Linked DNA regions of Homo sapiens. The protein of the gene in region 1 purifies or fractionates together with the protein of each later gene. This does not show direct contact. Each region holds a gene or a part of one and is shown on either strand. Other genes may lie near its edges.

Region 1 (4,600 bases):
AATAGGACACTATTCACTGAATCCAAGTATATGTTACTAGTTTTTCTTAAGTTAAAATTACTTCAATAGGTCCTAGTTGGCCAGTTGATTTTAGCACTTCTACGTAATTATTGGATTTCCTATATCATTCAAATGTTTTGTCAGCTATAGAAACTAACTTGGTGCTGATATTCTGATTCAGAAAAGTTACATTTTTACTCAAGTATCTAGCAGTTATATTACCAAGAAAACAAGCTCTCCAAGAGTGCAGACAGACATCTGCAATACATCTATCCATATATTCTCAAAAAGAAATCAGTTTCAGTCTACTGAACCTGGACCTCTGACTTCATTAGCACTATGCTCTGGTTGGAGCAAACGAGGCAGAATACCCATAATAAAGCAATTAGTTTCTAGCCACATCTTAAAAAGAAAATCTCAGTCCAGTCTGTATCTGCATTACACAAATTTAAAATTCGGAATGCAAATTAAAGCACTTTTGTTTAAAATAAATTAGATAATGTGGTAGAGATTATAATTACTATTGCTGCCCTCCATTAACGTATGGAACTATTTGTATGAAACATTGACACAGATCACAAATAAGCACTGAACAAAGAAAATAAAATGTAATCTCTTCTCAGATGCACCATTCTAAAGTACTTTAACAGCAATATTATCTCCTCTATTCCTAACAATAATTACAATGTGAATCCAATCTCATTTCTTATGCTTACCTTGCTGGTTAGGCTGTGAAGACTCTCCTCTGCCCATTTTATACTTGACTTCATGCTCGAATTACTTGCTTTTAAGTGAATTAACTGATGTTGAGCACAAATGTATGCGAGCTGCAGTCTAGCCATCTCTAGTCGTCTCTCCTCAAGGATTTCTTGATTATCACAAATAGATGGTGTCTGTATATCTAAAAGTTGAAAATTGTCTTCATTTGAACTTTCAACTACTTCATGTATACCCTGAAAGAACTGTTTTTTGGTATACAAAGTTAATGCTGCTGTGCTTTGCTCTTCCTGACTTAGGTATTTTTCCAAGGAAAATTGCGATAAAAATACCAGTGGATTTGTCCCTTGACCTAAATTAGAATGTCTGAAGAACATCATCAATTGTGTAACTTCATCAGTAAGAGCCTGAAGTTCATTACTGATCTTAGTGATCATTGCATTTAGAATTCCTTGACTCTGCTTCAGCTTTTTAGTGGCTTCTTCTTCTTTAGCATTTAACCTCAGAGATTTGTGGCTAGTTACTGAAGCCATCAATTGACATTTATTACGTCGCTGAATTTTTAGGTTCTTTAATTTCAGTAGAGTTTGAACCTCATCCTCTAATTTCTCCAGCTCTTTATCATCCAGTCTAGGTGTCTTCAAATCAGAAGTTTTACACGTTTTAAGAGCTTCATCCAATGCCGCCCCTTCTAGAATAGGCTTGCCTGATTTCTGAAGAATGCTAAAAGCTTCCAATTCTCTTTCAGACAACACGTTCTGTTCATTCACATTCCCACAAAACCACTTCAGAAACGATTCATCTTCAACGCCCTCAAACAACCAGTCAAAGTCTTCTCCATTAAGATTATCAGCTTTGGGATAACCAATTTTTTTTAATGTTTCCACAAACTCATTTCCACAACTCATGGTTTTAACTACCCCAATTTTGTTGTATCTGATATGGGTTTACGGTGTTGATTTTTAGAAAATAAATCCAAGCAGAAAAAAAGCTACGTTTTATACCAAGTCCACAGAGAAGGGAAAATATATTTTTAGAATCTATAATGATTCCTCCTAGGGGGGAAGAAAACAAGTATTAGACCACAAATATGACGACAGTGTTTTTAAAAAGAAGACACAGACAAATATCACATGATATCCGAGAGCGGGATAAATGACAGGTAGTCGTAGCTGCAATGTTTGATGATGATAAAGAGAAACAGAAACAATTAGGCTAGTTCTCAGAAAACCGCAACAGTAACGAAAAGTAATTAACAAGAAAGTGGATCTATTTGGATCCATTTTATCTTTTTTTCCAAAGATAAAATGGTTTAAAATGCATTACACTTTATAGAGCAGCATTTGTTTTTAATTCAAAATAAATGGATCCAAACAAACCCAAGCCACCAGGAGGCTAGGCAGCCTCTCTTCCCTGCCCTCCGTACGTAAGAAGACGCAAATAAGCATGGCACATCTTCTGAAGATCAACTAAATATTTACCTCAACGTCTCGCCGGGCAAGGCTCCACCTCCAGAGTCCACCACCGCGACGCGGAGAACAGCAGGAGCAGCAGGGAAGCGCGCGGCCACAATTAAGGGTGCTTCGGGCCGGCCTTCAGCCAGCGCTGAGGCAGCCCCGACGCCAGGGCCGCGCGAACCCCAGAGGCAGCGGCAAGCCCCAGGGATCCGCGGCCCCAAGGCCGCGATACACCAGACGCGCCAGCGGCAAAACCTTCCTTCGGAGGGTCACCCAGCTGTGACACCTAAGCACGCTGACAAAACAAACGCACAAGCCCACCGAATCGCCGTCGACACCGAGCTGCAGAAGACGGGGGTGACAGGCCCCGCACAGCCCCCGCCCCAGCTCCTCGCCCAGCGGACCGGGCCCTGATCCCCGGGCAGCTGCTGGAGCACCTGGAAGGAGCCCCCAGGAGCGCAGGAAAAAAAAGAGGCACCTGGGTGCAGACGGGGATCGCGGCCACTCCTCCAGCCCCACACCCCTGCGCCCAGAACCGAGGCCCGCGTCAGTCACCTCAGGAAGTTCCGCTTGCTTCTCGCAGGAGCCCGCCGCCACCGCCCTCCGTGCCCCGCGCGCCTCGCACTGCCTCACGGGAGCGCCTGGACGCGCGCAAGCGCACAAGGCGACGGCGTGGTCGTGGGGGATGACTGTTTGCGCAGGCGTAGTGTCAAAAGAGGCGGAGTCGGCGAGGCTGGACTATGGGGTGGAGCTGAGCAGGCGGCGCTCGGCCCCCGGCCGCTGCGGGCATCCTGCCTCCTGGGCGGGGCGCAGGGCAGAGAGAGGCGGGGTCTGGGCCGGGAAGGGCGGGGACAGGGCCTGGACAGGGGCGGGGCCTGGGCAGGGGGCGGAGCCTGGGCAATGAATGGGGTGCAGAGGGGTGCAGAGGGGTGCGGTGGGGCGCCCTCTGGGGAGCTGAAGCTGCGGGCCTGCTCTCAACGGAGCCGTCAGTTGTGCTTCAGGCCTGCCCTGCCCCGTACTTCAATCTAGACCCTCTGAAGGCACTTTTGAATGGTACAAAGAGCAGCGCAGGTTGGTGGTTGGGAGACAGGCTGGAGCCCGGCGGTGATAGCGCTCGCCCCCGAGAGAGACGAGTTCCCGGAACATTCACAGCAGCCCGACCAATGCCTGGTACATTTTAAGGGTTAGGGATTGTTCGCTTAGAGTCTTTTACAATGAACTTTATTTTGCAAAAACACTTAATTTCTAATCCCTCACCAGAACACTATGTAAAAGCTGACTTCTGGCCGGGCGCGGTGGCTCATGCCTGTAATCCCAGCACTTTGGGAGGCCGGGGGGGGGGGGGGGGGGGATCATGAGGTCAGGAGTTCGAGACCAGCCTGGCCAAGATGGTGAAACCCCATCTCTACTAAAAAATACAAAAATTAGCCGGGCGCGGTGGTGGGCGCCTGTAATCCCAGCGACTCGGGAGGCTGAGGCAGGAGAATCGTTTGAACCCAGGAGGTGGAGGTTGCAGTGAGCCGAGATCACGCCACTGCACTCTAGCCTGGGCGACAGAGCAAGACTCCGTCTCAAAAAAAAAAAAAAAAAAAAAGCTGACTTCCTCCACAATTCCCTTTTCAAAATGTTAGAAATAAACGGAATGGCCTGAGTTAAATACATCGATATATTTAACTCAAGGAGGATGGTACACCATTTCCAAAGAGGATGGCAGTCAGTGAAAGATGACTGAAACGGGATTGCTAAATTTCATGTGAATCTGGCTGATGCCCTACAGCCCAGTGAAACCAGACCTCTCTATTGGACAGAATTCGTTTGCATCTCTACCAAACAAAAATCCTTTGCCACTCCTCAGTCTTCCACAGGTTAGCAGGGGCTTTGGTCATGGGTAAATATAATAGTACTCCCTCCCTTCAGCGTCAAATGACCCTAAAGGTGGCTTGTTAGACAATGTCCTAGTCCAGGGTGACTAGGTAGAAGTCGTTTGGATAGTTTTTCTTAATATTTTTAAGGAGAGAAATAAGAATGTTCTAAGGCAAATATTGTAATCTGATCGAGTCAAAGATATTTCCTATTCATTCTTCACTTGTTTCACGTTTTTTTCCTCCTCTTTTAAAAGTCAATAAGGCCTAAAATGATCTGAAAAACAAACATGATGGGAAAAAATTCAAAGAGTGGTGCCCAATCTGCAGGCAAGGAAACCAGGGATGCTGGAACGGGGAGGCCTGGTGGGAGGACCCTTGCAGCCCAGGGTTGGAGGTTGGGGGTGTGCATCAGGGGGCAGAGTTGAGCCAGTTTGGACAGGAGGAAGTGGGAGCTGTGCAGGCAATGCCTTCCAGAAATGTTGCTGATGAGGCAAAGACTGGGTGGGAGGAGTGTGACACAGAGAGAGAGATACAGAGAGACAGAGAGAGACAGAAACAGAG
Region 2 (4,351 bases), on another chromosome or scaffold:
TCCGCCTCCTGGGTTCACGCCATTCTCCTGCCTCAGTCTCCCGAGTAGCTGGGACTACAGGCGCCCGCCACCACGCCCGGCTAATTTTTTGTATTTTTAGTAGAGACGGGGTTTCACCGTGTTAGCCAGGATGGTCTTGGTCTCCTGACCTGGTGATCCGCCTGCCTCGGCCTCCCAAAGTGCTGGGATTACAGGCGTGAGCCACTGCGCCCGGCCAAGAGTTGATGTTTTAAAAATTATAAAAGAGAAATGACAATTTGAAGGTATTTTTAAGGATTTATTTTTAAACATTATCCTTCCTTTCATTGTCTTAACAGTAAATTACTTCATCTTTGCTCATTCATATGTATTTTCACATTACTGAATCCCTAACACCCAGTTTGGGGTTTGCTTTGCCTTTTTTCACTTAACCTTATATGGGATTTTTTCTTGCAAGTTTAATTTTTATAAGTTTATTGGCTTCATAATGTATTGAATTCATCTGTCATAACCACCTCCATATTACTAGACTGGGAAGTTCATAATTTTTTTCAGTATTACCAATAGATATTATTGTCAATTGCGGTATCACATTTTCTTTCGTTTAGATTACGTCTTTAGGATAAATATCTGGAGCTCAGATTACTAGGTCAAAGGGTAGAGTTTATTTTTATGACTACAAGTTTTGTCATTTTTGGTAAGATATATCACAATTGACAATGAGGCAAACAAATCAACTAGCCCCCTCCTGCTCTTTCTTCCCAGCAAACTCCTTCCCCAAACTAGTTACTTGAATTTGAGAAACAGTATGAGGTTTTGCCTTTTGGAGACATTATTATTTGAGCCAAGTTTAGGTTATACAGATTTTTTAAAAAAATAACATGATTTGGCAAGATCATGATGAACCTCCTTTTCTTTGAGTAAATTAAAGTACTACTGGCAAATAATAAACTGGTCTTAGGAGGGATGGAAGGCGGATAAGCCTTAATGGAAGTAGAAGTGATCTGATACTGGAGACCCTGAGAGCTTGTCTCTGGCTTATTTTAGCATCCGGGAAAGCCTTGAATATTATGAAAGATAGATTGTAGCCCGATGTCACAGAGCCTTCTTACTTAAGTTTGGCTCAGCAGTCTGGCAATTCCCGCCTGAGTCTTCGCTATCCTGGCTACTGCAAAGCTGGGTAATTTAAATTGAGTGGCACTGATAAATGCTCAAAGAACTTGGCAAAGCTTAAAGATACTTCCTTTCCGCTGGTCTACGGACGTGAAGAATGAGACTTCCAGTTTCCAAGGAATTTGCTGCATAGACTCTATCGCCGGTTTCAAAAGTCAAACTGAGACGACTTTCTACTTTAAACAAACACTAGGGATTTGCTGGAGTGGCGACAACCTTCCGCCGCGTACCTTGAGCCCTTGTTTTTTTTTTTTTTTTTCGGAGACTTCCATTGGATGCCGAAGTTCTCGCCCCCTCACCTCGCACCGGGACTGGTTGATTCCTGGCCTTGGCGGGTGATTGGTCGAGCTCGCTGGGCTATTGGGCGCTGGGAGTCGAGGGGGCGGGAGGCGGGAATTCGTCTCGGGTTGTGTGGTTGAGGGGTCTGGTGGGTCGAGGAAAGGTAACGGCGGCCCCAGTCCTGCACACAAGGCCGGGGAAGTAGCAGCACCCCCAGGAAGAGGGAGGAGGAAGGGCTCGTGCCCTTTCTTCTCTTCCAGGGCTCCGCTTTATTTGCTCTCAGAAGTCGGTTTCCTTTCCTTTTCTTCAGTGAATCGGAGCTCAGAGCGTTGCTTCGGTTTCCCTCCAGACAGGCAAGTCGGAGGGAAGTCCACGGAAAGGGCTTGAGTTCTTCTGCACAGCCTGCGGGCCCATGGGTGGTGACTGGATCACCAGGGTCTCGGGGATCTCAACTGGCTGGGGGAGGAGGGAGATACGGGGCAGAAAACCTGAGGAGGGAGCCTATCCTTACCTCCTTTGAGCGCAGGCCTGTTCTTAGCCCGGGCGCTGCGTTAATTCTTGGCGGGAGGCAGAGGGGTGTGTTTATCCTTTATGCAATGTTTGGGGGAAGCTACCCCATTTTGACACTATTGTTGCCACAGCCGGGGTACAGGACGGGCTGATTTCTAGATTATATCTGAGTAACTAGGCCAGCGTTGAGTTGTTGATTCATATTAAGAGGTTAGATTCCACCATACCTCATTCTCAGAGCTTTACAGATAGAATCGCAAAATGTTAGAGCTGGAAAATACCCTAGAATAATGGTTCTTCTTTTGGAGCACACAAGCAGTGGTGAATGTTATTATTGGCTTCATAATCTATTGAATTGCTATTTTAACCATCTCTTCGTCCCCAGGTTGAATTTACAATTTTTTCCCACGACTGCAAATAATTCCTTATTTAATAACAGTGCATGTAATTTCCCCCGCTATTTTGATTTCCTTGAGATATATTTACGGGAAGAGAAATCTATGGACTTTTTCTTCAGAAAAATGCAATCATGTACAGAAACTTATGCTTGCAATTTCAAGAGGTCATTGTCTCTGAATTACATCCGTGGATCCTAGGTTAAGAAAAGTGGTTTAGAAGAGGTGAGGATTAAAGTGATCCTCATCTGTATCAGATCCTGGGTTAGGTACATTCTGCCCTGGCTAATTTTCATAAAAACCCTGTCAGGTAAGTAGTAGTATTTCAATTCCATATATGGAGAAACAAGCTCTGAGAAGTTAAGTGATTCACACAGTGGAATTCAAACTTAGGATTGCCTTACTCCAAAGCCCATCCTGTTTCTATAATACTCTACTGATCTTCAAATAACATTTTTGAGTGCCTACTATGTGCCAAGGCATTCTCTTTCTTATAACAGCCTTTAAATTAAATTAGGGGTTATCACAGGTAAGGATCTTAGACTAGAGAAGTAAAAAGATATGTCAAAGATAACATACCTGAGTCAAAGATAACATACCAGGCAGTATACCAAAACCTGGTATAGAACCTATGCTTCCTGACTTCTGGTCAACAGCTTTTTTCTTCTAACTGGAGGACTGCAGAAAGGGGTAACACAAAGGGGAAGAACTGGAGAAAGAGTGATGCTACGGAGTTGTAGAGAGAGAGGCCTCAGGAACTTATTTGTTTCTGTAGGTTGATTACATCTGATCTAACTGTTACAAGAGCTCATGTTTAATCTGGTATGTACTTTATCATATTTGCACATTATTTCACTTAATCATTACCACAATCCTATGGGGTACATGCAGTCACTGTGGCTTAGAGAAGGTAACTAACTTTCCCGAAGTCACACAACTAATACCTGGCAGAGTGAAGGATACAAATCTAGATTTGTTAGACTCTAAGACATGCTCTTGACCGCTGTGATTTATAAGACTAGGAAATTATTTTGTTTCCATTTGTTTTGTTTATACTTTTATTAATTCCAGTTTCTGTTTCCAGATTTCTCCCTTAGTTTTGGTTCTCTGGTTTTCTTTGTAAGGCGTGTCTCAATATTTGACATTTTCATTTCTGTTGTAGTTAGGAATCTGAAATAAACAGGAAAGCACTATGTCTTCAATGTGGTCTGAATATACAATTGGTGGGGTGAAGATTTACTTTCCTTATAAAGCTTACCCGTCACAGCTTGCTATGATGAATTCTGTAAGTATTTTTCAGCAGTTAAGTTTTTATTAAGATATAGATACTTATGACCCATAAAGTACATTGAGTATTTGACTGCATTCATATTCTCAGTAAATGGAGAATATTTTCTGGGTTCACTTGGAAGAATATCTAACCTCTGGGAAACTACTGATTGCAGCTAAACTGTATATATCTGTGGTTAAGGCAAAGAAGAACATTCTGAAAAATGTTCTCAGCTCATTTGGAATTTCTATACTTTTAATGAAAAACTGCTATACTTTTAAGTAAAAACAGAGTATTTACTATCTTTTACACAGAATACTATTTTTCTCACCATTGTTTTGTTTGGATCATGTAGAAAATTAATATACAAATTTGAGTAAACCAGCTTTCCAGTTTTGTTACAGCTATTTTGCCATATGTACTTCATATCTTATTTACTGGTAACAAGATTATTAGTATCCTGAATTTGTTCTTTTCCTTTCCTAGCCATGTTTTTATACTTTTATTACATATATATGTATCCATAAACAATATAGAATATTATTTTACATATTTGAAACTGTGCATTGATGTGATACGGTACCTTACTTTTTATGCAGAACTTGAGTTTTTTAACTTAGCATTATTTTTAATGTATAGCCCTGTTGATTCTTAATCCATTTTAATTGTTGTATAAATTCCATTGGATGAATATACCAGAATTTATCTGTCCATTTTCTTATTGGTAGACATTTAGGTTGTTTAC

What was found.
Region 2: the proteins of POLN (region 1) and BRIP1 purify together in Homo sapiens (affinity purification with western blotting; one study listed by BioGRID). This does not show direct contact.

Annotation. Positions count from the first base shown.
Region 1 is NC_000004.12:2,239,322-2,243,921, forward strand, and holds the start of POLN (DNA polymerase nu), read right to left. Parts: upstream 2,801-4,600; 5' UTR 2,730-2,800; intron 2,470-2,729; 5' UTR 2,199-2,469; intron 1,773-2,198; exon of another isoform or gene 1,626-1,772; coding exon of another isoform or gene 717-1,625; intron 1-716. Other genes in the region: HAUS3 (HAUS augmin-like complex subunit 3), read right to left, coding at 717-1,625. UniProt on the Homo sapiens protein: DNA polymerase with very low fidelity that catalyzes considerable misincorporation by inserting dTTP opposite a G template, and dGTP opposite a T template. Is the least accurate of the DNA polymerase A family (i.e. POLG, POLN and POLQ).
Region 2 is NC_000017.11:61,860,717-61,865,067, reverse strand, and holds the start of BRIP1 (Fanconi anemia group J protein), read left to right. Parts: upstream 1-1,539; 5' UTR 1,540-1,784; exon of another isoform or gene 1,785-3,158; intron 3,159-3,498; 5' UTR 3,499-3,528; coding exon 3,529-3,621; intron 3,622-4,351. UniProt on the Homo sapiens protein: DNA-dependent ATPase and 5'-3' DNA helicase required for the maintenance of chromosomal stability. Acts late in the Fanconi anemia pathway, after FANCD2 ubiquitination.